Linked DNA regions of Homo sapiens. The protein of the gene in region 1 purifies or fractionates together with the protein of each later gene. This does not show direct contact. Each region holds a gene or a part of one and is shown on either strand. Other genes may lie near its edges. The genes, in order: SP3, SUB1, EFL1 and GRHL1.

What was found.
Region 2: the proteins of SP3 (region 1) and SUB1 purify together in Homo sapiens (affinity purification with western blotting, with the first as the bait; one study listed by BioGRID). This does not show direct contact.
Region 3: the proteins of SP3 (region 1) and EFL1 fractionate together in Homo sapiens (co-fractionation; one large-scale study listed by BioGRID). This does not show direct contact.
Region 4: the proteins of SP3 (region 1) and GRHL1 purify together in Homo sapiens (co-immunoprecipitation; one large-scale study listed by IntAct). This does not show direct contact.

What each region holds. Positions count from the first base shown.
Region 1 is NC_000002.12:173,955,099-173,962,373, forward strand, and holds part of SP3 (transcription factor Sp3), read right to left. Parts: intron 1,135-7,275; coding exon 1-1,134. UniProt on the Homo sapiens protein: Transcriptional factor that can act as an activator or repressor depending on isoform and/or post-translational modifications. Binds to GT and GC boxes promoter elements. Competes with SP1 for the GC-box promoters.
Region 2 is NC_000005.10:32,595,282-32,602,556, reverse strand, and holds part of SUB1 (activated RNA polymerase II transcriptional coactivator p15), read right to left. Parts: intron 3,597-7,275; coding exon 3,488-3,596; intron 1,553-3,487; coding exon 1,473-1,552; 3' UTR 1-1,472.
Region 3 is NC_000015.10:82,127,363-82,135,139, forward strand, and holds the end of EFL1 (elongation factor-like GTPase 1), read right to left. Parts: intron 3,200-7,777; coding exon 3,011-3,199; 3' UTR 2,871-3,010; downstream 1-2,870. UniProt on the Homo sapiens protein: GTPase involved in the biogenesis of the 60S ribosomal subunit and translational activation of ribosomes.
Region 4 is NC_000002.12:9,948,367-9,956,405, reverse strand, and holds the start of GRHL1 (grainyhead-like protein 1 homolog), read right to left. Parts: upstream 4,714-8,039; 5' UTR 4,573-4,713; coding exon 4,553-4,572; intron 4,495-4,552; exon of another isoform or gene 4,111-4,494; intron 4,105-4,110; exon of another isoform or gene 3,943-4,104; intron 1,492-3,942; coding exon 1,305-1,491; intron 1-1,304. UniProt on the Homo sapiens protein: Transcription factor involved in epithelial development. Binds directly to the consensus DNA sequence 5'-AACCGGTT-3'.

The DNA.
Region 1 (7,275 bases):
GACCCCTTGTACTTGAAACGTTTGCCAAGTTACCTGTCCAGAAGGGGTCACTGTCTGTGCCTGAATTAAAAAGGTTCCAGGATTCAGCTGCAACTGAAGATTTTGCAAAGCCTGTTGTGATATATTTTGACCACTGGCTTGCACACCATGGATTGTCTGTGGTGTAATACCTTGCACAATTTGGGCTTGACTGGTTGGCTGCTGAGACTCTTGAAGTTGTAGATGCTGTACAACAGGCTGTGCTGTAGAAACCTGAATATTCTGTGCCTGTGTCTCTTCAGAAACAGGCGACTGGATATAATTTCCCTGAAGATCTGAAGAATGAACCTGCCCACTAGATGTAGTCAAGCTATTTGTGTTTTGTTGTAATATACCTGTACTATCTATCGTAACAGGCAACTGTGATGAAGAGGATGTTGGCACAAATAAATCTGTATCAGTATTAGTTTCATTAATATCAGGAGAAACCCGCTCACCAGTCCTTTCTGAATTGTCTGAACTATCCATAGCTTGTCCTGTGTTTATCAAATGTCCGTCGGCATTAATGCCTGCAGTCATTGTCTGAGAACTGCCCGAGAGTCCCAAAGAATCTAGATCGACACTATTGATTGGTACAAACGTAATATTTCCTGGCAGACCAAGAGGCACATTAGCAACTACTTGGGTTTGACCAGGAAAAGATGAACCACCAATTGCAACTCCCTGAACCTGGACTTGACCAGTCTGTGGTATGAGATTCTGGATGTTAGCAGAAGGTGTTCCAGAGGCAAGTAAGGTTTGATTAGAGCCAGGAATGATCTGAATTTGACTGCTTTCTTGATTTATACCCCCATTATCTGAAGAGCCTGTGAAACCAATTTGAACCTGCTGACCATCTGCTGACTGGATCTGTGGTATCACTTGATATTGAACACTGGACACTGTACCATTTGATGAATCTGATCCTGGTGCAACGGAAAATATTTGTTGATTCTGCAAATTCTGAAGGGGAAGAACATACTGCCCACTTGAAGTAGCAGCACTTGGAATCTGGACTAGATTACCAGCTTCATCTTTTATAGTTGTAGGTGTGGCTGACAAAACCTCCCATCGGTTTGGTGCTCCTCCTAACTGTGCAGAAGCCAAATCACCTGTCTGGATGAAGAAAACAAAAAGGTGATATATTTGTGGTATATTTAAATCAACCCTCAAAAAATTCTAAAAACTGGTATAAATCCTACTACCTGAAAATTCAACTTATCTTAAAACACAATGGAGTTCAAATACAGGAGCAGTACTATATGAACTACAATAATTATCACTTCCAGTTTTGTTACTGCAAAGACAATTCATCCTATTTGAGTGGGATAAAAAAAATTCTCGGAATGTTCATCACAACCACAGACCAATTTTCTAATCCTGCATCTATGATCTCTAACACTACACAGTTAAAACACAAAACAAAACAGTGGAGATGGCTATGACCAAATCAGGTGCATTATATTTGTGTATAAAAAGGAAACATAAGCATAGTGTATTAAGTCATCCGACTTAGAAAAGATTTATTGCTATAAGCCTAAAATCAAACAATGAAATCTACTCTTTTGTGGCATCTATTAACATACTCTAAAGTAAACTCATGGCTAGGGCTATTCCATTAAGCTATCAAACTCTACTTTTTCCATGAACTAATGAAAAACAAAGACCTTAAAAAAACTTAATGAGAAAAAGTCATTGCCCTGTGACCACATGACAACGTAGCCCCATTTGAAAGGTTTCTCTAGGATCAGAAGCTGGAGGATACACACTGTGACTTTACTTACTAGTCTAAGTTTTCAGTAGAATGTCTGGCATATACCTTTTGTATTCTGGTGTATTAATACAATTTGAGGGAGAGAAAGATAATCTAGGGTTTCATTATATTCTCAATGGGAATCTCAATGGGACCATAAAAATCAGTTGAGACATACACAGTTCTCTCAACATAAACCATTCTATAAAACTTAATGCAAATATGATAAACAAAAAAATCTTAAGTTTCTTAAAGAAACTCACTACCTAATTTTCATGAAGACATAGTTGAGAAATATATACAGTTATTTCAGTGGATGAACCACAGTTAAATGACTGAATTCAAACATTTGAACGTAATTTACCAAGATGAAATACACACGTGAGTAAACCCATGACATACAATCCCAATCTTCAAACGGTTCACTGTCAATCCAAGCAGACATACACACATCCATGCTAATACAATGTGAAAAGTAGCACAGACTAGTCATATGATCAAAACACTCTGTGGAAGACACAAGATTGAAAAAAAAGATTTCATACAGAGATAAAGTAGTATTAGAATATAAGATTTTCCTGTAGTCAGTTAAAAAAGAGGCACTAATAAAAGCATAGAAACAATAAAATCACAAAAAGAAACCCTAAATAATAATATGCAGTTTGGAGTTGAAGAAAAGATCCCAAAAAGGCTCATATTCATAGAGGAAAGTAATGGGGAACAGGACTAGATATTTTTATCAACGCTTGTAAATGGCTTCACAGATCCCACTAAATTGTTTAGACTTTATCCTGTAGATAGTGAGTGAAAGCTATAAAAGGTTTATAAGCAAGTGAGTGGTGCAATCACATCTGTGTCTTATAAAGATAAACTAAGGCTCAATGAAGGAGACTGAAAGAAAGGGAGGAGACTAAAGGCTGAGAAATTGTGGAACCCAATACAAATCTCTAGGCCTGAACTATAAAATAGCGATCTGTCTTAAATACACTTAAATTATATTTACTAAACAATTTTAAAATGAAGCATCAGACATTAAAGTCACATGTCACTCTGCAACTTCAATCTGGTATAGAAATTACAATGTTAAGTCACCTTTCCTAACATTACAGTGACAAATGTTTCATTTCGGTCTCTTGGCATTTTAAGTAAACTACAAATATTTAAATCTATATACTAAAATCTACACTAAAGTGTGTCTAAAATCTAACCTTTATCTTCTTAAGGTTATTGCTCACCTGGAGGATCCACTGAAATTTTTTCTGACCAGCATAAAATTTACAGGTATTGAACTTTTATCAAAGAATATAGTAACTCAGACACAAATTAATTTTATGATACTGGCATTTTGTCCCTTTTCCTTTCTTTAAAAAAAACAAAGTCAAATTTACAGCACCTAAAGTGTTTTTTTTTTTTTTTTACAAAATAGTAATAAAGGCAGATATTCAACCATCACTGAACAGCTTTCTAGTCAAGAAATTCCTTGAAAATAAATACAGCTAACGCAAATGACAAATCTGAGTAAATATTGCCCAAGTCATCCCCTCTCCAGAAGCTAGATAAAAATAAACTGTAGTGCCATTTTTCTCAGCAATTCAGGCCATTAATTGAAGGAAAATCTCTAAACCTAGAGCAAAGTGATGTATTCCGAACTTTTCTGAATAAGCCTGAAATGAAAAGCATTATTAAAATACCTGTGAAGCACAACGATGGGGGAAAAAAAAAAAAAGCAACAGGTAATTTAAGGAAAAGAATCAAGCAAGAAAAGGAACTTTTTTAATTTAATAAATTTGCAGTTTTAAAAAAATTTGCTGAATACCCTATTTTCTAAATGGAATGGAAAAAACACATTGAATCAGAAAACTACTAGATGATTTATGCCAAAACTACACTCGACAATATATTACACAAGAAAAAAAAAAAAGCTCAGAACTGAGTTCTAGTTCTGGCTACACTGTGGAATTGTGTGAGTTACAGCAACTCAATTTTCTCATGTCAACAACCGGAAAAACATTACCTTGCAGGGGCATAAGAATCAGAAGAAAAATATTAAATTTTATAAACTATTGAGCACTGTGCAATCCCAAGATCATTGTGAGTGCTAAGATTATGAGAATAGATTTGAAAAACATCCATTAAAATTAGCCTAGCACAATTCCTGGCACTCAGTAAGATCAATATATATTTACTGAATGAAAAGTTATTTTACTTTAAAATCATTGCAAACACAATGACAGAATGGATCAAAACAAATTTTGAGGTATTAAGAGCCTTCTATGAAAAAGTCTAAACCAATTTTAAGCCTATTTATTTCCACAATTCCACAATGAATCAGCTCCAAATATTTCAAAACTACAAAGCCTTGCAAAGCACAATCAAATTTCTTTGTAAAAGAAATTTCATCAGCAATATACCACTAAAAGAGATAAAGTACACTAAATACCAAATGGGAGAGGAATAAATTAGAAAATCATCTGAGACCAAAAAAAAAAAAAAGTTTGAAAAATGTTTGATGTTAGACTACTGGAAACACTACAGAAACAAAAGAATAAAAGGAGATTTAAAAACGTACAACCGTGACAGGGCCGGTGGCTCACGCCTGTAATCCTAGCACTGTGGGAGGCTGAGGCGGGCAGATCACTTGAGGTCAGGAGTTTGAGACCCGTCTGACCAACATGATGAAACCCCGCCTCTACTAAAAAGACAAAAATTAGCCGGGCATGGTGTACATCTGTAGTCCCAGCTACTCTGGGACTCTGGGGCTGTAGTCCCAGCTACTCTGGGGGCTGAGGCGGAAGAATGGCTTGGGCCTGGAAGGCGGAGATTGCAGTGAGCCGAGATTCCGCCACCGCACTCCAGCCTGAGTGACAGGGCGAGACTCAGTCTCAAAAAAATAAAAATAAAAATAAAAAAAATTAAAACAGGCAACCAAGACGAGAACTAGTATTTGGTTTAGAAGCAAGATAATCCTCTACATAACCTATGTCTACGTAAGTTTACAAACCAAATTAAAAATCCACCAGTGTTTCTCTCAGTACCTTTCTTACCGGACAATTAACAAACAAAACCTAGGCAGGTGGATCCTTTGAGTCTAGGAGTTCAAGACCAGCCTAGGCAACATGGCGAAGCCCCATCTCTACAAAAAATACAAAAATTAGCCAGGCGTGGTGGCACGTGCCTGTAGTCTCAGCTACTAGGGAGGCTGAGGTGGGAGGATCAACTGAGCCCCAGTGGTTGAGGCTGCAGTGAGTTGTAATCACACACCTCCATTCCAGCCTGGGAGACAAAGCGAGCCTTTCTCAAAAAACAAACAAAACACCATCTAACATGAATGTTGGCATTAGTACAGTAAAAAGTTGTAACTAAGGCACTCTAAGTCTCTCTACATACAAATATACCGGTGGAAACGGAAAAAGAAAAAATTCACACCACCTATTGCATAGCATTTGGAAATGATTATTAACTTAGTTCCCACGAATGCCTTTACGAAAGCCAGAAATAGGAAAGGAAGGAGTATAACTGGAAACAAGAACAGGTGTGAAGCTGAGGTGGAAACAAATTAAGAACTTAGGCAAATATTCAAGTTTCTTAAAATCTTCAAAGAGCACTAAAAGAACTCAGACTTCAAATAGAATTACCCTACCCAATGAATTAGTTACAATGACAGCACAGGTCTTATTTTAAATAATGGCAAAATAACTTTTTTGAAGTAAGCTATTACTTATTTTTTAGCTCAACATTTATGTGCCAAATTAAGGAACACTAAATTTACAACCTAAACCAAAGATCAAGCAATCACTTTCATAATAGTCACTTATTTTAGGCCAGGCGCAGTGGCTTACGCCTGTAATCCCAGCACTTTGGGAGGCCAAGGTGGGCAGATCATGAGGTCAGGAGATCGAGACCATCCTGGCTAACACGGTGAAACCCTGTCTCCACTAAAAATACAAAAAAAAAAAATTAGCCGGGCATGGTGGCACACGCCTGTCGTCCCAGTTACTCGGGAGGCTGAGGCAGGAGAATGCTGTGAACCCAGGAAGCAGAGCCTGCAGTGAGCCGAGATCGCGCCACTGCACTCCAGTCTGGGCGACAGAGTGAGACTCTGTCTCAAAAAAATAAAAATAAAAATAAAAGTCACTTATTTTATTCCACTAAAGTAAAAATGAAGTAAATTAATAATCCACAAGTTCACATAAATGCAAACTGGTCAAAGTTAATACTTGCACAAAGGTCTACTTTTTTCTATTTCCTGGTTTACTACTAAAATTAGCCACAACTTAAGTACAAAGGAGCGTTGCTATAAAACCATCTTTCAGAGTCCATGTTGTACGACATTATATACGAGACTGCTTTATGACTAGACTTCTTCAGCAATGTACTGTGGGTAACCAAACACCCTTGGCTAGGATCCTCTTTTATGACAAATTCCAAATTCAAAATCCAAATATTAAAAGCAATCTTCAGCACAGTTGATTGGCTTTTCAAGGCCCTTTTAATCTCAAAATACCAAGCTAAACTGGCATAAAGTTCATCTGTATGTGTATATTTCCACTTGTTTAAACACAACAATATATATGCAATGTGGAATCCTGGACTGGATCCCAGAAGAGAAAATGGACATTAGTGGAAAAGCTGGTGAAACGCAAACAAAGTCTGGTTAGTAATGTCATACCAATGTTCATGTCTTAATTTGGACAAATGTATCATCATTATCCTAACATTAGGGGAAGCTGGATGAAGGGTATGAGATTACTCAGTTCTGTATTTCCAACTTTTCTATAAATTTAAAATTATTCCAAAATACAATTATTTAAAAACACAGCTATAACCTCTCATAATTCCCAGTCATTTGAGTAATAAAAGATTATCTAAGCCCATGAACTCATGTGAATTTCCTTTTCTAAGATGTGCTGAAAAGATGTCTTAAGTTCATATTTGCACTGGAAAAATAAATTTTTAGCAAATTTTCTATTTGCTAAGGCAAATACACACAAGCCAGTCTTACCAATTTTACTCAAAGTGAAAAATCTTGGGTGCAGGTACCAGACATCATAAATATATGGTTTGGGTTTTTTTTTTTTTTTTTTTTTTTTTAGGCAAAACTATTTTCATTTTACTATGATTGGCAAATTATGATGTATTTGATTGATAAATCTCAGATTTATCAGATTGATTCTAGTTCGTCTTCATGTGGCAGAATATGTGTTGTCAGGAGTGATTTGGTAATTCAGAAAAGCAGCTGAAGAAGCATGGAAACTTCCCTACAAGTATATGGCCACAGCTGGCTAAGGTTGGAGACAGTATTCTATCCTTGGGCCTCAGACTCACATATGTATGTACATACACATATTATTCACCCATATTTCCTTCCTTCTCCCCTCCCCCATCTGTAAACTGATATCTAAACTTTACAAATTACAGTTACAAGAAAAGTTTTGTTCCATTTGAAATACAAAAAAGATCAGGAGAAGCAATCTGCTTTTTAATTTTACTTATGCAGTAGTTTT
Region 2 (7,275 bases), on another chromosome or scaffold:
AAAATGTTTTAGATGTATGAATCAAACTTGGTAGCAAAATAGTGCAAAACTCTAATATGGCAGACCTTAATAGCAGGTAACCATTTGAGATTTGCTACCAAAAATAATTTGTCAACAAGAATCTTTTATATGTCTTTAAAACTTTCCTTTTTCTACTCTACCTAGAATTGTGTTCCACTGCTGTTATAAAAATCTCAAAATATCATATGTATATCATTTAGATAGAAGAGAATTATTTCCTCTTCACTGCCGCCTCCTTTAATTTCAGTTATAATTCCCTTTATAAACATTCTTTTCCTAAGGCACACCATGCCCTATTTATTGCCACAAAGCCACTAAAATCTGTGCCTCAATCTGTCTGCTTCATCAGTATGGTTAAATACAAACCACTTACTAGTGTCTGCTAAAACTTAGTATCATCAAGTCTAGAATGCCATTGGTCTGTTCTACTGGGGCAAAGGCCAAAATACACAAGCATGTGCTCATATGCTCTTTTCCCTACAAACTAACCATATTACCTACTATAACAGTAAAGCTTAATGACATCTCTGGCTACATATAATTCATACCCAATATTATAAAATAAAATGTTAGGCCAGTAAGCTTTCACAATTTTTATTAAATCCTAGTCTAGTTGAACAATATCTGATGTTACAGACATCATCCCATGGTGAACATGTTTAATAAGTGAAAGCAAGTCAGACATCTCATCTAAGTCATTATTTTCTGCAGACTAAGCAATAACTACACAGAACACTATGGGTAAACAAACACCTGCTCAGTTTTCACACAAGCCATGTTGTTTATCAAATTAGATCTGCTAATATTGAATACAGTAGATTCGGTGATTGTAGTTCTCATATAAGTATCTTATTGAGATAACATTTTGACAGTTTCACTGACTTTCCAAATAAGCATACCATAATCAAAGAAAAGAATAAAGAGTGAAGTAAAAACTGAACATGAAGAGATTAAGTTATTAAAGGAAAATGAAGTAAATAAAAAGAGTGAAAAACCATTGGGGGTGGAAGTCAAACAAGCCTAGACATTTGATTGGAAGAGAAAAGATCAAATATGAAGTTCACAAACCAAAAGTTTATAAACTCAATGCAATACAAATCCTTTTTATTGTAAAAGCTGAGTTGAAACTAAAAGATCTATAAAAACTGTTACTTTTGGCCTTAAACAGTACCAACTCTTATGATCAAAAAAGGCCACAACAGTTAAGATTGTATTACTTGATTTTATTTTACACTAGGTGGTGGGCAGACAAAGTAATCCTTAATAAAGTTGACAATTAGCTTCACTCAATATTTTTAATAATGCACATTAAAAAAAAGTATTCATCTTACAAATTCTTCTGCAATCCAAACATACAATAGCTTGGAGAACATTTAGAAAACAAAAGCCAATGTAAAAAGACAGATTAAAACAACTAGAACAGTACAGGTTTTATTTATATGGCTCGAATTTTACAGTTTTCTTACTGCATCATCAATGTCAGAAATCTGTTCCTTCAGCTGGCTCCATTGTTCTGGATTTAAAGAAATACCTAAAACAAAGTTTAAAAATTCAAAGGTGAAAATCTATTTAAGCGTTGAGGATTTTCATACTTCCAACTAGAATACTGTTTTATCAAAATTGCCACTTTAGGCTGGGCGCGGTGGCTCACACCTGTAATCCCAGCACTTTGGGAGGCCAAGGCGGGTGGATCACTTGAGGTCAGGAGTTCAAGACCAGCCTGGCCCAACATGGTGAAACCCCATCTCTACTAAAAATACAAAAATTAGCCGGGCATGGTGGTGGGCACCTGTAATCCCAGCTACTCAAGAGGCTGAGACAGGAGAATTGCTCGAACCTGGGAGGTGGAAGTTACAGTGAGCCAAGATCATGCCACTGCACTCCAGCCTGGGCAAGAGAGCAAGACTCCATCTAAAAAAAAAAAAAAAATTGCCACTTGGACACAATGCTACAATACTGAAAATCATATCTCTTACATTTGTTAATTACATATCATCACAATTTACTGAGCATTATCAATCTCATATCCAGTCTTACTTTCCACAGTGCATCCTGCATAGTACCTATTGTAACCAATGAGAATAAATAAGGGTTTGAAGACACATCTTACTAATACCCGTCAACTATCAGGCTAAAATGGTCAGGTCCAGATTTGGCATGTGATACCCCATTACTATATTTCCAGCTGGTTCCAATATTTGCCCAAAATTTCCACAGGAATTCAAGCCAATTGTGCTGAGTTCTTCCAGAAGCATTCATTTCACTTTGGAAAAATTCCCAGGACGTGATTCATACAGGACTCCTCAGAGAGTATACCCGGGTAACTGCACTCTAGGGTCACCCTATCAGGGTTAAAATTCCAGCCTCACTTTCACTAAGTGTATGACCCTTAAAAAAGAACTACATCACCTTGTAAGCCTTAGTTTCCTCACCAGTAAAATGGCATCTATACGCCAAAGAGTTGTTGTAAATGATTAAGTAACATGAATAATGAACTTAGCATATCACCTAACACATAAATGGTTAAAAAATGTGAGATATGTCTTTCCAGTTTAAGATGTAAAAGTATGAACAGAAATTTTATATTTTCTATATTTTGTACTTTAACGTTCTAGCATTCCAATACCGACGCATATAAACAGAGAAGTAAACAAGAACTGGCAGAAAGTATTCCCAGAAAACTGCTGGAAGGCCATGAAATTGAAAAAAAAGAATAAACAAGAAATATGGCATCGGCCACTCTGGTACGTGAATTACCAATCCAGAAGTGACTTGAAGAAAATATGAAAGCATATAAACACATATAGAGGCTGAGTTTAACCAAAAAAAAAAAAACTGCATGAAGCAAACAAGTGGTACCTTTCAAACTAACAGGCAGGCAGAATAAAACTAAATAAGGAAGCATTTTTCTTTAGCTGAGGGTCAACCTAGAGCAGCAATCCAAATATACAAATTTAGGTTGGCTCACCTTCTCTAGCTGTTTGGTGAATTATACAAAATATGTTTCTACAATGCTAAGAGGCTTGGGACTGGATGAAGCACAAATGGAAGGAAAGCAGAGATCCGCTTGAAGAGTAATGCCCTAAAGAATAGCTTTTAGGAGCTGAATCAAAAGGAAGCATTGTAAACCAAGATTTTCCATTCCTGATTTTACAAGTTCCCAGATAGTGCCTAATCTGCTTCAGAATTGCATAAACCTTTTTAAAAATTGTTCAAGTAAATTAGCAGCCAACTGAAGTGATATTAGGGGTGTTACTTTTCTGGGTTTTATTCCCAAAAGCTGTATTAAGACATCTCATTAAAAAAATGTTAAGTATCATGTCCAAAATAACTACAGAAGATAGAGAATCAATTGAGTAAGACTCTTCCTTGCCCCGTGTGTCCTGCCAACATTTCAAGTAAGCTACTCAGAAAAGTTGTCGTTTAGTCCTAACACTGTAATAAAATTCAAGTAATTAGACCTCACCTTTTCTTCCTGGTTTCATTTCACCTTCAGGATCCATCCAATATTCTCTAATATCAATTAGCACTTTGCCTTTAAAATCGCGAACACTAACGTACCTCATTTTCCCAATCTGCAAAAGAAACAAACATAAAAAGAGGTGCTCCTTTCAAGAGTGGTATCTGTTTCAATTGTATTCATATTCACAACTTGCTGCATGCTCACTCTACATCTAATCATGAAAATGACTACTGCTGACCCTTGAACAACATGGCTCTGAACTGTGCAGGTCCCACTTATATGCATATTTTTTTCAATAAATATACTGGAAAAATTTTTGCAGACTTGACAATTTGAAAAAACTCACAGAACAACTGCATAGCCTAGAAATAACGAAAACATTAAGAAAAAGTTAGGTATGTCATGAATGCATAAAACATACCTAGATATGAGGTTATTTTATCACTTACTATCATAAAACATACAAATCTATTATATGAAGTTAGAGAGAAATGTAAACAAAGATGGAGTATTAATTCATAACTGCATAAAATTAACTACAGTAGTGTACTAGTGTTAACTTCATAGCCACTTCCTGTTATCTCAGTGTACTCAAATGTTACAAGTATCTGCTTAAAACACCTTGTGTAAAACACCATGTGATGCTAATCATCTCTGCTGAGCAGTTCATGTCTCCAACAAATTGCGTATTGCAGTAAAAAGTGATCTCTCACGGTTTTCACATTATTTTTCATCATGATTACTGCAATACCATAAACTTTAAATAACACCATGAGTCCTATACAAAGTGCCCCTAGTGATGCTGAAAGTGCTCCCAAGAAGCAGAGAGAAGGCATGACATCACAAGAAAAAAACTGCCAGAAGCAGTGGTGCATGCCTATGATCCCAGCTACTCAGGAGGCTGAGGCCGGAGGATCACTTGAGCCCAGGAGCTTGAATCCAATCTGGGCAACACAGCAAGATCCTGTCTTTAATTTTAAAATGCAAAAAAATAAAAATAAAAATAAAAATAAAAAAGTTGAATTGCTTGATATGTACCACGGACTGAAATCTGCAGCTGTGGTTGCCTACAATTTCTAACAGATGACATATTTTATTAACAGATGACATATCTTATAAACAGACAACGTAAACTAATGTTATTGATAAACACCATACAGTACAGTAAAATGTAATTTTTCTCCCTTATGATTTTCTTAGTAATATTTTCTTTTCTCTAGCTTACTTTATTGTAAGAATACAGTATATAATACATATAACATACAAATATATGTTAACTGTTTATGTTACTGTTAAGGCTACCAGTCAACAGTAGGCTATACTTAGCAGTTTTGACAAAGTCAAAAGTTATAACCAGATTTTCAACTGCACAGGGGTTGGTGCCTTGCATTTTGACCCTGCATTGTTCAAGGGTCAACTGTACTACTCTCAGTATCAAAACTGCAACCAAAGGAAATTGCTGTTTAAACTATCATATGATCCAGCAATCCTACTTCTGAATATATATCCCAAAAAATTGAAAGCACAGACTCCAAGAGACATCTGCACACCCATGTTCATAGCAGCATTATTCACAAGAGCCAAGAAGTGGAAACAACACAAATATCCACCCAGAGATGAACTGATAAACAAAATGGGAGAGGGGGGGTGGAATAGACACACAATGGAATATCAATTAGCTTTTAAAAAAGGAAATCCTGTTACATACTACGTCAATGAAATAAGCCAGTCATAAAAAGGAAAAAGGTAATACTTTATGATTCCACTTACATGATGTCAAGTTCACAGGAACAAAAAGTAGAATGGTGGTTACCAGGGCTGGGAGAAGGGGAACTGTTGTTTAATGGCCACAGAGGTTCAGTTTTGCAAGATGAAACAGTTTCGGCAATCTGTTTCACAACAATGTGAATATACTTTTATGGTTTTTACCAGCAAAAAAAAAAATCATTAGGAAGCAATATTTTGCAGTACAAACTACAACCAAGAGGAATCCACAGATGCAACTAGCTACACTGCTTCACCAACCATTCTGAATATACGAATCCAGAGTTCCAGTCAATAACAACCAAGTTTTTCCTTTTCATGTTCACTTCAAATAACATCTTTAATGCACCTCACTCACAGTCAGATTGAGAACTTAAAAATATTCACAGAAAATTATTTTTCAAAAATCTTATATATCTGCTTACCACAAATTACAAATTCCAGAGAAAAGAACAGGCTTTCCTCAACAAAGTGTCTCTTAGCACTTTCCAAGACTCACTATAATATAGTAAGGGAAGACAATGCAGTACTGGAGTAAAGACAGACATAAGAGGTCAGTGGAACACAACGGAGTCAAAAAATACACACGCATTGGATATATTCACTGATTTTTTTGGGGGGAGGGGGTAAAATCCAAGGTAATTCAAAGGAATAAGAATACTCTTTTCAACAAATGGTGTTGAAACAACAGGCTATCTGCATTTGGGGTGGGGAAGACTCTAAATCTCTATCTTACATCATACACAGAGAAATTAATTCTACATGAATTATAGACCTAAATGTGAAAACTAAAACTATAAAACTTCTAGGAAAAAACACTGGCAAAAATTTTTGTGGCCATGGTAGGCAAAATACGTCTTGGACAGAAAATAAGCATTAAGCAAAAAAGGAGAAAAATCGATAGAATAGACAATCACACTAAAGCCTTTTTTAAAAAGATGCTTCAGAAAATAAAAAGGTAAACCAGAAACCTAAAGAAAATATTCACTCAAGTTGGAGCCACAGGGGTCTTGGCCTTCGAGGAGAGCCTGAGGAAGAAGCAGAACCGTGGACGTGAAGAAAATGATGAACTGACCAGAATCCGTGAGGACCTCATTTCCAAGAGAGAGAAGATCTGTCACAGACGCCCCTGACCAACTGCCAGTCCCCCCTTATTCTGTCTGTTTGATTCTCTCTGGTTTCATATTTTCCTCTCTGTTAACCTCCACTCATTTTTGAACTAGATTGCTTTGAAAACTAAAGTTTCCCTGAAGTCTAAAAAAAATATTAATTATACTTACATCTGACAAAATATATAAAGTGTTACAACTCAAATGACCTGGCATTTTAAGTGGCCAAAAGATACTCTTCACAAAAGATATAAAAATAACCAATAAACACACTAAAGATGTACAATGAATTAAGACATGTACATGAGGGAAATGGAAAGTAAAACCACCATGAGCTACCATTATACATTCAATGTAACTAAAAAGAAAAAAACTTAAAAGACTGACAATATCTAGCGAGGATGTGGAGCAACTGGAATCTCCTAAGTAGTACCGATGGCTGTGTAAAATGCTACAGCTACTATGGAAAATGGTTTGACAGTGTCTTATACAGTTACACATTTACCCTACGACTCAGCAAATGTATCTGGTATTTACCCAAAAGGGAAAAAATGTCCACAAAATGACTTGTACAAGAATATTCACAGCAGTTGTATTCCTAATAGCCCAAGACTTGATACAATCCCAATGTCCACCCAAGGTGAATGGATTTACAAGTTGTAGTATTATCATACAAAATACTACTCAGCAATAAAATTACTGATATATGCAACAAGAACTAATCTCAACACATTATACTGAGCAAAAGCCAGACACAAAAAATAGACTGCATGTATCCATTTATACAAAGTTCTAGAAGAGACAACATAAATCTATAGTGGTAGAAATAAGATCAGTGATTACCTAGGACATGAGCAATGACTGTAAAGCCAAGAGGAACTTCCTGGGGTGATGAAAATGGTCTGGCCACAAAGGCGT
Region 3 (7,777 bases), on another chromosome or scaffold:
CAAACAAACAAACAAATTCTTGTCTTTATTTTAATGAATTTTTTTTCTAGCTCAGCAAGTGTATAATGTTCTTTGCCTTAATAAGCCTGGGCAACAGAGACCTTGTCTCAATAAATAAATAAATAAATAAATAAATTCTTGTTTTTATTTTAATGAATTTTTTTCTAGCTCAGAAAGTGTATAATGTTCTTTGCCTTAATAAGAAAGGAAGAGTTTGACTACTTGACAACAGAAGACCTTCTAATTCCCAGATTTGATAATCTGTTCACCTGAAGGGCTTTGACTCCTGGGACAAGCTCACCATAGCTCTGAGCCTTATTTGGCTGTTCTAAGGTAGAATAAAAGAGATCTTTTACATCTAGGTCCCTATTCTCAGCTCCAAGTACAAAGGTTAACCTAATTTCTGAATTCCATTATTTTTCTAAACTTACTGGTCAATAAAACTGAGTCAGTCCAGATAATGATTTTGTACCTTGGACACTGGTAGCTTTACCTAAGTTCAAGGCAGAATAGAAATAAAGATGCCCCCAAGTCCTCCTCTACCATAGTGAATATTCAGCATCTACTGATAACTTCTCTGATCCTAACATGTATCAGGCAATAATCATGGGAATCCTTGTGTGATGCACTACAGCAGAGCTTGCCAAGAGGTATGACGGAATGAAAAATGGGACCGTGGGCTGTAAACTTAACTTTCGCCAGGCTCTAATGAATTTCCTTGCCCATTTCATACAACAAGTGTGAGGATCAAATACATATAAAAAGTCCCTCACCTGGAGTTCGAGACCAGCCTGGACAGCATGGTAAAACCTTGTCTCTACTAAAAAGACAAAAAATTAGCTGGGCATGGTGGCGCGCACCTATAATCCCAGCTACTCAGGAGGCTGAGGCAGAAGAACTGCCCTCTCCGGTGCCAGGCATTCTTCACAAAAGTCCCAATAGAAGGGAATTTCCCTTCCAGTCTGTGGAAAATCTGATACAGGAAAACAGGCTCTTCACAGCCTCCCAATCAGAGGGCAATGGTGATGGTCTCCATGCTACTTGCAGCTCATCCTCCAGTGGGGGCTGGAGCCCAGGCCCTTCCCAGCCTCTCCTCCCCTCACCCACCGACTCCAGGATGTCTGGGAAAAGGCATTATGTTGGTGTTGCCTATGCCTGTCCCCTGAGCAGAAGGATAGCTGCCTCTGGACCTCAATACAAATAATTCTCCAGGAGTGAGAGCCGTGGTTTTGTGGCTTCCTCAACCTAGCCTTCCTCACTGTCTCTGAAGCCTATCTATAAATGAGTGTACAAAGCCAGCCCCTCTGTAAGAACAGGAACACTCTCACTTCTACTTGTGGACTGACAACATTTTGCTTGGCTTCTACTGAATTCAACAAACAGAGGCTAGGGTTTGGACATGGCATTGGGCACAGTACAAACGTAGTCTTACTATGCTGTCACAGAAGGGGACAGGGTTTCAATGACTGAGGTCTCGTCATGAATTACACAATAAGGTAGATTATTTAGATGGTAGATTGGCTCTATCCCTTGGTCTGCCTCTTTGTGGCCACTTTCCTGCTCATTATTACCTCTCTCAAACATGGAGAAGGAAGACAGACAATCTATCAACTCGACATGTCACTTCCCCCACACTGGCACATCTGTCAGGGCCCAACAGACTGCAGAAAGTGCAACTTTTTCTCCAACTTTTTCTGGGTTATGCCTCTTTTCTCTATTAAATGCAAAATGTGCTGATCTAAGTATACATTTTATAGCACATCTGGCAGTTTGAATGATGTTATTTACAAATGCTATAAATCGAAGTGCTAGTTTTTCCTATGTTATCAAAGTTTTCAAATAAACCAATAGATGATATAACTCTCCTAAACTAACTCATATATTATTATCTGTTGAAATTAAACAGACAGTGAATTATCCAGTCACATTTTCCCCAAAGTCTAGGCCAATTAGATTTGACCAGCTATGCCAGGGCCCTGAAGATTTAGAGATAAAATGTCTACAACTAGTATTAAAAATGACCTAGTTTATTAAGAAAACCCATTAAAGTATTTCAAAAACAAAGTCTGGTCTGATAATTTTATGCTATGAAAAGGAATCCTTCTTTTAAGTGGCTATAAAAATTATTATGCAACATCAAAAAATATAAAATCTATTTTTGTCTGAACTGCATTTGCTCCTTAAATGAAGATCACCCTGAAGGAGGCAACTGAGATTTAGAAAAAATATTTACAATAAAGCCATAACCTCATGCACATTAGCTAAGTAAGGCTAAAAGGAAATAGCAAATAAAATTATAGAAATTTACCTTTTTTTAAAAAAAAAGAAAAAGGTACAGGGATAACACCCATTAACACTGATTTAAATAGGAATGATAAAATTTATGAGTGGGTGTAAAAGCAGAAGATTTACAGGCTAACTATTGAACATGATACTGTTTTGCTAGACAACACCATAAGATGGATGAGCTGTAACAGTGACTTGGTTTAACTAAAAAGCAGCTGCTCTCTCAAGTATGCGGTCTCTCCAAACAATGTTAAATGCTCTGATTCACTGATTAAATATGAAATGTTTCCACTCCGAAATTCACACATGATGTTTATGTGGAGGATGTACTCAGAATTATGACACTGTGATGACAGGCAGAGACAGTGTGAGCCCCGGAGTGGCCGCTCAGTGCAGAGGAGACTGCCCACTGTGGGTCTGCACATCACCTCCCCACCACCAAGAGGGTAGCCCTGACCACACGTCTTACTGCTGGGGGTTATACACAGGGCAGTCATAAATCATCACTGCAATATTTATAACTTCTTGCCTTGAACCAGAACCAATTAAAAACACACTTGGAAAACATGTTCTCTAACATCCTCTTTAAAATATTTATATGGATCAACTTTATTGAAAGTGAATAAACAGAGATAATGTGGCAAAAAGAAATTTTCCCAATATTAAACCCTTGATGATACTTTTAAATTCACTATAAGGAAAAGAATCCACCAGTAGTAGGTAGCTACTTATTTTTGCTGAGTGTCCTCTGCTTTTCTGCATGCTCCACAATCTTTTCTTCCACATAAAGCCCCTTCCGCTTTCGTACTGCGTTCATGTACTTCCGGGCTTGGTTCTCAGAGTCAGCCTTCTCCCCAAAGTGCAAGTATTCCTCCTCAGTAGTTGGCACCCAGAAGGGGTCACTGGGAATGATCTTGTAAAAGAAGATGACAGAATGTGCAAGGTTAGGCATTTTTAATTTCAAACCTTATTCACTGAGCTCCCCAATTTATATAGTCTTAGCTAATGAAAAAAAGTTAGGCAATGAACAGCTAAGCTTGCTAGGAATGGTAATAAGTATGAAGAATCGGCAGGGTGTGGTGGCTCACGCCTATAGTCCTAGCACTTTGGGAGCCAAGGCAGGTGGATTGCCTGAGCTCAGAAGTTCGAGACCGGCCTGGACAACATGGTGAAACCCCGTCTCTACTAAAATACAACAACAACAACAACAACAAAAATTAGCTGGGTGGGGCGGCATGTGCCTGTAGTCCCTGCTACTAGGGAGGCTGAGGCAGAAGAATCACTTGAACTCGGGAGGCAGAAGTTGCAGTGAGCTGAGATCATGCCACTGCACTCCAGCCTGGGCGACAGAGTGAGGCTCCAACTTAAAAAGAAAAAAAAAAGTATGAAGAATCATGGGAGGTGTGAACAAATGGAAGTAGATTCAACAAAACTTGTAACATACATTATTATTCTTTGCTCCTAGCGCCAGTTCATAACACTAAGGAAGAAAGAAAACTATTAATTTTTCATAATATAATTTTTAAAAGCTTTCATTTTTGCTAGGATATATCTGAATGTTAATGTCTTTGCCATCAATATTTTGCCTTTGTCCTCAACCTCAACAAAGATCAACACATGTAACTACACTCTTATTATTATTACATATATTTTTTTATTTAAGAGACAGAGTTCTGCTCTGTTGCCCAGGCTGGAGGGCAGTGGTGCAATCATACTCACTGTAGCCTCAATCTCCTGGGCTCAAGTGATCCTCCTCCCTTGACCTCCCAAGCAGCTAGGATTACAGGTGCATGCCACCATGCCCAGCTAATTTTTAATTTTTTTTCTGGAGGTGGTGGGTGCATGACATTGTGAATGGGAAAAATGCAGCAAAATGTTTATTTAAAATGTTCAAGTTTGGGGGAGGCTGAGGCAGGTGGATCATCTGAGGTCAGGAGTTTGAGACCAGCCTGACCAACATGGAGAAACCCTGTCTCTACTAAAAATACAAAAAATTAGCCAGGCTTGATGGCGCATGCCTGTAATCCCAGCTACTTGGGAGGCTGAGGCAGGAGAATCTCTTGAACCCAGGAGGTGGAGGTTGTGGTGAGCCAAGATCACACCATTGCACTCCAGCCTGGGCAACAAGAGTGAAACTCTGTCTCAAAAGAAAAAAAAAAGTTCAATTTTATGTTGTATGAATTTCACCTCAGTACATTATTTTTAAAAAGAGAGACTTAAAGAAATTTCCCTGAATACAGAATACGGCACAGAGAGATGGAGATTAAAAAAAAAGTCTCAAAGGAAAGTCAAGAGCCATCAAGTATGTATAGGGTATATCTAACAGGAGTTCTAAAACCAAAAAACAGAGAACAGGATGAGAGTCTTCAGATGGAAAAACCTCACTGAGTCTGGACCAAGATAATAAAATAATCCACCCCTTGTGACAGTGTTGAAATGCTGGAAATCTGTGGGCACCTGCATCTCCTGAGGCTCGATTCTGACCCACTAGACACTATAGAATGGGAGGTGTGAGCCACAACTGTGCTTCTTGCTCTTGAACAAAGGTTGGAAACAAAGCAGCTGCCTGTGTCCTGGTGCTGAGGCAGGTACAGAGAAAATCAGAGAGAAAAGCCAGATCTAGAGAAGAACATGAATCAGACCAACGAGACGCTTCGCATCAGCAACAGCAGTTGCTGGGACACAATGAAGTCCTTCAGAGTGCTAAGGAGCCTCAGTGTGAGCCTACACGTCTTTATCTAGTTAAATAAACCATTATCAGCGAACCAAAAAAAGCCTCTGTTGGACAGACTTTAAAACATATTACCTCTCATGGACACTCAACAAAAGAACTAGAAATATCCTTTCAAAAAAGAGTCCCCGGAAGGAAAAGGCAGACAGTAGAAGTGAGAGCAGCCAGGGGGCACAGAGGCATTATCAGCACTAGAGTAATAACTCTGGTGGGTGACAGCAAGTCTAAGGAGCGTCTCGAAGTGGGAGCCCAGTTAGAGGTTGGGCAACAAGGGGCAGAAAAGGAGACAAGGTCCAGGAATTGGGGGGGGGGGGGGGTAGGCAGAGTGGCAGACAAGGGCGAATGGATGGAATTTAGACGAGAAACGGCAGTTAAGAAGGAGGAGTGGGGAGGAAGCTCAGTCCTGTGGACTTGGTCATCTGAGGGGGTTCTTCTGGGTCAGAGGGTTTGTGCTATAATTTTGTGGGCACAACAGTCCCAGAGACTCAATTCTGATTCACCAGCCACTGGGCCTAGGATAGAAAGGCTCATTCCAGATCATTCACCAGCAAACAATGTCAACACGATACCAGTAGGGCTGAGTCAGTATGGGCTCAGGGCCTGGGCAGGAGGAAGGGAGGGAAAGTGGTTGCCACTCAAAACAGCCTGACTGGTCAAAAGCCACCCACCCAGGGTGAGGGTAGGTGTAGCTATGTAGGGGGAGCATGAGGGAGCCTGTGGTGATGGAACAATTCTGTATCTTGATTACATAAAGCTACATATGTAATACACTTTTATAGCACTAAAGACACACAAACTCCCATGAATATACAGAGCAGAAGAAAGGGAGCCTGCATCTTTGATGGTGTCCCTGAGCCATGGTACCAGCCCTACTTGCTTAAACAATTACTATTCTGGCATTATGGTTCTTGCGGCTGAAAACACTCATAATCTATCAACTGATACAGGGTTGTTGTGAAGACTGAAGAAGATATTATATGAAAGTCATATGGTAAAGCACCTGGCATATCCTAGATTTGTCTGGCTCCAAAGCCTGCCCTTTGCCATGTTTGCAGACTGCCATGAAGACTGAGTTTATCCAAACATAAATTGCACAATGGTACTAGCTAAGTCAAGTGCATTTATTATAACTGGTGAAACCTGAACAAGTGCTATGGGTGTATCAATGTCAATGTACTGTAAGAGATGTTAACATTGGGGAAGGAGGGGTGAATGGCACATAGGACCTCCTTGTACATATTTTTTGGTAACTTCCTATGGAAAAAAACTATTGTAATTTTTTTAACAAATTCTTTTTAAGACACCCGGCCACAAGTTATAATTCTCTTTTGTCTGGAGGTAAAATTCTCAACATTCATAAGAAACACAAACTGTTTTCAGAATTGGTTATTCTGCTTTGCTGGTGGGAGGACAGGGTGAGAGGGGTGGTGTCTGTTTCCTCATATGCGAGGAAACAGGCAGAGAGACTGCAATGAGCGAGAAGAACCAAGTGAGTCTGTGTGGAATCAAACCCAGAGAGTGAGGAGTCGGGGGTTGGCACTTCACTGAATCAGGAGCAGGCACTGAGGCCAGAGTGAACGTGGTGTGAGGGTCAACTGCACTGGCTCTGGAGCCAGGCAGTCTCCCTTCAATGCCAGTTCCCTACTTGCTTAGCTGTGCGATCTTGGGCAGCTTATTTCGAACCATTTATACCTGGGTTCTTCTATTTGTAAGGATGGAATGTTAAAAGTCCCAATATCATATGACTGTATGAAGACATCTTCACTACTCCTGCATCTGTGTGGACAGCCTGAAGCCACTTGCCTCAACATACCCAACAAACTCTGAGAACAGGGGAGATGGAGTAACACTCGAGTGCTCGAGGCTGGTTTTGAATTTCCTTAGTGGAGCAAAGACAAGGCTACCCTTTTATGGTTGTCCAGCTTGTGCTCTACAGAAAGGACCCTCCAGGCCACAGAGAGGGGCTTGATATCAAACTGAAGAAAAAGGTGCTTTTTTTTTTTCCCTCACTGCCTCACCCAGAATTCATCGGCCTAGAGTGAGAATGTATTTTTGCAATTCAACAGCCTGAAGGGGATGCCATTTTCTAATCATAAGAAGGCACCCAAGTGCAAACTGTTACCCTAGGCATTAAGGGAAAAGAAAGCCTAGAAGGAAAAAGCTCTGGGTGCTCCATTTCAATTTTCTGCCCAGTTTTCACGATGATTACTGCTGGCAGGTGGAAAATACCATGTCCAAAATAAGCTTGTTTGGTGCTATTGTAATCACTTCACCCGGTATGAACTTTAGCCCACCCCTCAGGGTAATCTCAGTAATAAGCGATGAATCTTGAGGTTATGCTGACATACATGTACAACAGCACTGGTTGGTAATATTTTTTCTTTCTGTGTCTGTTATTAGCTCCTTTTCTTCCTTTTTCATAGAAGGGTAAAACATAGAAAGAGAAATTATGAGATTGCTGACTTCAAAGGTTTCCTCATGGAAAAATGCCTGTAATTTTATTTTCTCTATTTTTTGAAGCACTTTCTCTCAAAAGCTCTTGATTGTAAATTATATGGTGTGGTAGAATACAAATGAAAAGAAGTGCCTTGGAGTGAGAAGCCATATCTCAACAACTGTGTTATTTCTAAACCTAACTATGGGGGAAAAACCAAGACAGCCAAAATATATCAGATCAATGACATTTAATTATAATGTAGTTTTTAAGATTTCAAAGATTTGAAGCTTTTGGGAACAGGACCACGACAGGTGGCAAGGACA
Region 4 (8,039 bases), about 160 Mb from region 1:
GAGACTATAGGCATGTGTACTAACCGGCTAATTTCTGTATTTTTTTATTTATTTATTTTTGGTAGAGACAGGGCCTCATCATGTTGCTCAGGCTAATCACCCTAATTTTAATAATAAAACTATCTCCTAGGCTTCTTTCACCTCTGTATTTCTTGTATTAAGGAAAGAATACAGTGCCAGAATGTAGCCAATGGCTAGCAACTGGCGATTCTGGGTAAAGGTATTCAGGAATTAATTATCCTCTTATTTTAAGTTTTATGCAGGTTTGAAAGTTTTTAAAACAAAAAGATAGCAAAAATAAACTGTAAAAAATATACACTACATTCATGAGAAGACACTGTCATTAAGAAGCTTCTGGTAATCCCAAACAGATCCTGTTTTTATACAGGTACTGATGACAACACAATGATTACACAGGTTAGTCACACAGAGTGACAATGAGACAAAGGCCCTGTGGCAAAGCTGTGCTTCAACTCAGTCTGCTGTTTTAAGTAGCACCCTAAAGACGTAGCCACCCCCAAATGTGTGTTTCTGGTCAGAAGGAAGAATGGAGAGGTGAATCCAGAAGGAGAGCGGTATGCACGCTGCATTAGAAAGACAGTGGCCTCGGCCATGGACCAGACTAGGGCCCCAGATGCACACATCCTAGCTGTGACCTCTGAGTGAGAAGTCGCACGCAGGCTGGTAACATGTCTAGCATAATAGTGGCAGCTAGTGTTATCAGGACAATGATGATGAGACAAATCAGTAGTGTCACTTCCAGATAATGAAAATCATGTAAAATTCCATGCAGAGTATAGATTATATTTAATTAAGAGTACTCCAAATCTCTAGAAACAGGCAACAAAACATATCCTGATCTTGGAACTGGACAGTCCTAGACTACAGAATATGATTTCAAAGGCTCTGTAGTATCATTTAGGGAAAGGAAATCATCCTGACTACCCAGGAACAAAGGTGAAAAGGTAAATGACCCCTGCCCACTTTCCATGGCACTAAGAACCACCTTCAGTGAGATGCTCAAACCCAAGAAGGCACATCTAGCATCTTCTTTTACGGTAGCTTCACCTTCTGGATAGAGCCACAGCAGCTGACCGCTTTGCATGTTTTAAAAACAACCCTTTGATTCTACAATCACAGATTTTTAGCTTCGAATCACAGTAAGTCAAAGTACTCATTAAACTATTTATAGTCACTACAGAAGCAACTTGCATGGCATTCTACCAGCAAATGTCTGTTTCTATGCTGCTGAATCAAGTGCATTGGAGACTGCTGTTAAGGGTTTTAAAGGCAGGCAAACCCACCTTGTAGTAGTCATAGAGCAGGCCCAGCGCAGCGGCGCTGTCTTCATCTCCATTGATGCTCATCATCGCTTTGGTCGCTGCAGTGAGAGGGTTTTCCAGGAAGGATTTCCAGGCCTCATCCTCACTAGTGTAGGACCGCCGCTGTGGATAAAGTGCTTCATTCTGAAGAACCAACACTGGCCGTTTGCTTCAGAGAAATTAAAAAAAAAACAAAAACACACACTTTTCTACTGCAAGGTATCATAAGCTACCAATTCCTTGACATTCCTATAAAATAGCCTATTGTTTCATCAATGACCCTAGGAAGTCAAATTAAGACAAGACCAGAAGACAAACCACGTAAGTGCAGACCAATGGGTCCCACAGTAAGACATAAAGTATCTAGGCAGCCAGAGAACTGGCAGTTCACCTACACGTGGAACCCAGGGTATACTATTTGGCAAAAAAGCGAAACAAAACCATCCCCGAGAAAATGCCAGGCTATTCAAATACTTTCCATAAACAAACACAAGGACACAGTAAAGAAAAGAGAATACTTGTTCTCTTCCAACACACAATCAGGACTGTCCCCTCTTGAGAAGAGCGTGTGCCGTTCATCACACTGCTACATGTTATTCCCTCTTTCTACTGTGGCTGCCATGCCTTAAAAATTCCTACCTGAACACAGTGGGGAGGGGAGAAGCAGCAGAAAGAAAAAGGGATCCTTCACGCAATCCTCCAGGGTATATGAGAAAGCCAGAATATTCTACTGATTACCAGCAGATTGAGCATGGAATGTGGCCAAAGGGGACTGTAAATCAATAAAGAGGCATAATTTTCTGGCATGGGAGTTAACTGTTTATCTTAGAGATAAACACTTAAGGATATCCAACAATAAATGAAGCCACTGAACAAAAAGTTTTAAAAAAAATAGGTGGGAAAATCTGGCTTTTAAAAAATCTTTGCTAGTTTTCCACATTGCACAAGAACTGTTTCATTTTAACACTGTAGTTTGGTGGGAAAAATCCAAAAAAATCAATGGCGATCTTAGTGAAACCTTACAGAAGATTTAATTTAAAAGATTAAAGCAAACATTACTAATTCCAAAAACTTGAAATGTAAACAGTCTCAACAACTGTTCGGTTGGTACTATTTAATAAGTCAATAAAGAGAAAAAATGGAACACTGACTCTAGCAAAACAAAGCAGTTTATTTTCAAGGAGAAAAATAAATTTTAAATGTTTGGAACTCCTCTGAATTATTACAATTCTAACAAGCAAATTGAAGGACTGGCTCTCATTGCAACACACAAATGAAATATGTAAATGGCCTAAAGGTGACCTGCCTATTTTAAAAGTGAATGTAGAAAGACTGATTATCTTTTCAAGTAATCAACAAAGGTTAGCGTTTGGGAGTCACCCAGGGCCTTTAAGAACAGATACAGATTTAGAAAAAGGAGAACATCTTCAAAAAAGGGGAAAAAAATCCAACAATGTATCCTCAGTCAAAATGAAGTGTTATTTGAAAGCCAATGTTTTTACTCACGTTTTGGCATAAACGTTACATTTGGTAAGAAAGTCTTGAGGTGGTATACTATTTTAACACAAAACAAACATAAAAGACTGTTCAAAGCCAGCAGATCATTTGTCTAAAAATGGAGAAGATTGCTTACACAAATCTCAACTTTAAAGAAAATAAAGAAATATACAAAGTGGCATTCCCTGAGCCATCAGGACCAGAGTACAACAGCTACTGAACGGCTGGTGCCATGGACTGATTGACTGATGTACTGCTAAGCTATAATTAATAGCGTAATAGCTACTTCCAGAAGACTATGACAGCACTTGGCTGTTCAATTCCCTTAATGCTAGTTTTCAACTTCCCTTCTTCTCCCACCCACATCCCAAATTTGTACAAGCAATAGAAAACAGAGAAAGAAATGGCTTTATGTTTGGAATCACCCTGAAGGTGTTTCATATTTCCAAAGCCTGCCTAAGGCCAAAATGTTAGCTTTGGAAAATTTGCCTTATCTAAACTATACGTCAAGAAATAAACACAAAACCAGTTGCCTTTCTTAGTCCACTTCCTCATGACAGTCAGGAAGTAGGCTTCAGTCGCCGAAGGCTCATCATCACTTTCAGGTGAGCCTTAAACTCCGCGTCTGCGATCTCTCAGACTTCTGAAATATGTTTCAGGCAATAATTTAACTGCATATTCTACAACATAAGAGTAATCCATTTAAGATACTCCATACAAAATATCTATCTCATCCAGAAAAAGAACACACTGACAAAAACCGATCCTTCACAAATAACTAAGAAACTGGGAGGGGTACCTATCTGCCTTAAACTTCCTGATCTGAAATATACTGACTGGCCTGGTGCGATTTCCCTGTTTTTTCTTTAGTAAGTTTTTAAAATTTTTAGGACAATTTTATATTTTCAGAAAAGCTGCAAAGAAAATACAGAAAACTCCCTCGCCCAGTTAATCCCCCATGCCTTATTACACTACCACCTCACATTTGTCGAAATACGCTTTTAAATCACACACTCTAAAAAGCATATTAGCTTGTACAGTACTTTCTCGTTTAACACCCGGATTTCAAAGTTTCATCCTCTTGATTCTCTCGAGCACTAAAAACACGGTAATCTGTAATTACCATCAATGATGCAAGTGGCAAAATAACTCCTACAGCCGTTTTCCCACTCATGCCGCCAGCCAGGGAAAAGAAAACGCCCGGACATCGGGGCACTTCAACCTTTCCCTACATTTCTGTTTTGGAGGTTCCAGCAGGTCGCCGAGTGACGAGCCTGAGACCACAGATTACCTGGAGAAGTCCACCTGTCCCGACGCGGCGCGAGCCCCACCAGGCTCCCGAGGCCGACCGGGCAGGAGAGGGGGGCGGGGAGGCCCGGGGGCGTTGGCTGCGCCCCGACCTCGCGCCGCACCCGACCGCGCCGGGGGCCCGGACCCCAAGGTGCGCGCCCGAGGGGACCCAACCTGGCCGCGGAGGAGGGGAGGAGGGTGGCCCCTCCGGTGTCGAGTTTCCCCGAGGACAGGGTCTCTCCTCCCGAGGCTCCGACCGAACAAAGAGCACGGCAGGGCTAAGGGGCAAAGGCCGTGGCGGCGTGGAGTGGACAGCGGCCCCCGGCTCGCGCCCCGCGCCCGCCCGCCCGCGCGGCCTCGGGTCTGCGCCCGGCTCGCTCGCTGCAGGTGCGGCCCCTCAGCGCGGCCCCCCCGCGGCGGCCGGACTCCTGCGCCTCACTCACTTGTCGTACTCCTGTGTCATCGCGCCCGCTCGCCGCTGCCGGGCCGCAGAACTGGACTTTCGGGTTGGGACAGTACACCCGATCCGGGGGGAGGAGGCGGCGGCGGCGGCTGCGGGTCCGGAGCGGCGGCCCCGACGGGTTGGGTTTGCTTTTCTCGCTCTGAGCCGGCTCCGCGCGGGCTGCGCGCACTGGGCGCCGGGCTCGGCCGCTCATTGGCTGGCGATGCGCCGGCTGGGGGCGAGGCCTCGGGGCTGGGAGGCCGGTCGCGCCTCCTGATTGGTCGGCGAGAAGAGCGCCGGGGCGGGGCTGACGGGGACGAGCGGCGCGGGGCGGGGGGCGGGGGCCGCGCGTTCCGCGAGGTTGCGCCCGGGACTGCGCTCCCGGGGCTGCGCGCCCGACTCGCGGCCGTACGCGCCTGCCCTGACAGGAGAGGGAGCGCTGCGGCTGCGGCGCGCACCCGCCAACCTCCGCGCGCACCGAGAGCGCCCCCGCTCGCGCCCCGCCACCGCCCCCGCCGCCCCCGCCGTCCCCGCCGTCCCCGGCCATCCCCTTCGCGACGAGCCCCGGCCGTACAGCCGCCTCCTTCTTCGCTCACTCAGGCCTCCGCGCCCCGTGCCCACATTGCCCGCTGTTCCGGCCCCAGCGCCCCGCGCTGCCCCTGCGCTCGCCCGGCGGGGGCGCCTCTGCCGGTCGCCGCGCTCCCCGGTCGCGCGTCTCACCTCTCGGTTCTCGCAGGCTGTCACGCCCGAGTCCCGTGGCTTCCCCCGAGAGCCGTCTCCGGAATGTCCCTTCTCCTGGCCCACCGCGGCCGCGCGCTTTTAGGATTTCTTGCCCTCGCAGCTCCCGCGGTCCCCTCGGCGGCAGTCCCTGGGGCTCCGCGATGTCTGTGCCCCGCAGCCTCCCGGGCGCCACTTCCCCGCGCGGCCGCCCCACGCTGCCCGTGCAGTCGCGCGCCCCGGGCCGGCCCCGGGCACCACTCCACCGCGACGGCCCCCACTTGTCCTTCCCGAGCTGCCGTCTTTCCCAGGGTCCGCTCACTGAGTCCCCACATGCCCAGCGTCGGACCTGACCCTCGGACAGGCGCGGCCCCAGACGCCGGGGACAGGGCAGTCAACAGAACAGACACAACTCCTCGCCTTCCTAGTTGGGGTAACGGGCAATACAAAAACAAGTAAATGGTGTGGCTGGTTGGAAGGTAAAGCAGGCAGGCCCTGGGGAGGCGGGGAGGAGCGAGGCTTTCAGGCTTGAAGGAGATGAGGGGCCACGAAGGTGGGACTGTACCTGAGGCAGGGACCCTGGTGTGTTTTGTGACCCTTGAGGAGACCCGGGTGGCTGGTGGGGCACAGGGAGGCGGGAGCTGCGGTCAGAGATAGTGGGCGCAGGGGAGCGGATTGAGCAGGGCCTTGCCGGCTTCCGTAAGGACTGTGGCTTTCCCTCTGGGCTAGGTGGGGACGCCTTGGAGGGGCTTGGAGCAGGGTAGTGACAGGGTCTCACATTTTAAAATAGTTCTCTGCTGCTGCGTGGTGGGGACCAGGTAGGAGGCCATTGCCATGATGCAGGCCGAGGGCAATAGAGTGAGGTGGTGGGAAGTGGCCGAATTCTGGATATGCTTTGAAGGTGGGACCAGCAGGATTGTCTGAAAATTGGATATGGGGTGTGAGAGAAAGAGAGAATCAAGGATGACTACAGCGTTTCCAGCTGGGCAACTGGAGGAATGATTTGCCATCCCCTGGGATACAGAAGACCTGGGGCATAGAAGATTTGGGGGAGAACGAGAGTCTGTTTTGGACGTGCTAAGCTCAAGATGTATGGGAGATAAAAATCCATGAATCAGGTGGGCTCCTGGGTACGAGGCTGGAGTGCAAGGGAGAAGTCTGGGCTGAAGCTCACATCTGGGCGCCGCCCACGTCTAGAGGCCATTTAAAGCCATGAGAAGGCAGGAAGGAAAGAGGATGGGACCCATGCTGGATCCAGGAGCCTCCGACACAGAAAGGCTGGGAGGAAGAGCCAGTGGAGGAGACAGAAGACGGGGACACCGAGGTCGGAAGCAATGGAAGCGTGGAAGCCAAGGGAAGGAGGTGAAGTGAGGAGCAGCATGAGGTCACAGGGCCCTCCTGCAGCCAGCAGTCCCTCCTCTGTGCCCTGGTCCAAGGCCTTCAGGGACCGGAATCGGCAGCCTCACTTGAGACCGCCCTTCGCAGTTTCTGTCCTCTGACCCCGGGCCCAGCACTGGATCCATGCAGCCTGTTGTTTGTTCTTACCACTAGTTTCCTGTTTAAATCATTTATTATTTTTTTCTTTTCCTTTTTTTTTTTTTTTTTTTTTTTGAGGCGGAATCTCCCTCTGTTGCCCAGGCTGGAGTGCAGTGCCGTGATCTCAGCTTACTGCAACCTCTGCCTCCTGGGTTCAAGCGACTCTCCTGCCTCAGCCTCCCAAGTAGCTAGGATCACAGGCGCCCACCACCACGCTCGGCTAATTTTTCTATTTTTAGTAGAGATGGGGTTTCACTAAGTTGACCAGGCAGGTCTCAAACTCCTGACCTCAGGCAATCTGCCCGCCTCGGCCTCTCAAAGTGCTGGGATTACAGGCATGAGTCACCGCGCCCTGCCAAATCAATTATGTTTTCTAAGCACGCTAATTTAAGAAAAATGCTAGTCAATAACAGCACAGATGGTCCCAAATAGGGTACAAGTCATCAGGGTGGTGCCAAAGTGACTGACTTGGGAACAGTGTCCCTCTACCTGCCTTTCTTCTATTTCCTCTGACCCGGCTCCACACTGCCACTGGAGTGGCCTTTATAAAACACAGATTTCTTGTCACTCAGTTATACTCACCATAAAGTCCACACTCCTGAGCTCAGCCTCCCCTTGGCGGCCCAGCACTTCCCTTACTGCTCACTCCCAAGCACCGTCCCCGCATTCCCTGCTCCTTCCCTCCATGCTTGGCCCACTCCACTCAACTTCCAGCCTGGCTCATTTCCTCCAGGTGGCCTTCCCAACCCTCTAGGCTGGACAAGGTGTCCTGTGGGATCCACAGCGCCTTCTGCATTGCCCATCACCATGTTTGTCTTATGGGCTTTCCTGTTTGTGTCTGTCTCCACCAAGTGTGAGCTTTTCCAGAGAGGGCAGCGGTTGTACCACCTTCATTTTTATGTTCCTGGTGCCTGGTATATACATAGAAAATATCCAGCAAATGTCTACTGAATGGATGCAGTCCTCTGCAGGCATGCGTTCTGCGCCCAGTCTCCTCCCTTCTGTAGCATAGCTAGGGCTCTTTTAAATGACCCCCCCCACCGTTGCAGAAGATGAAAGTCCTTGAGCCTAATACATGGTAGGCACAAAATAAATAGGGGATGAATGAAGAAATATCCAATCATAAAGCCAAAAACAAGAACAGGAAGAGCCTGAGGTTATTAGACCATAGCTGTAGTAATTAAAAACATTGGGTCTATTTTGTCAATTTGAATATGGGATTGTTTAGTTTGTCT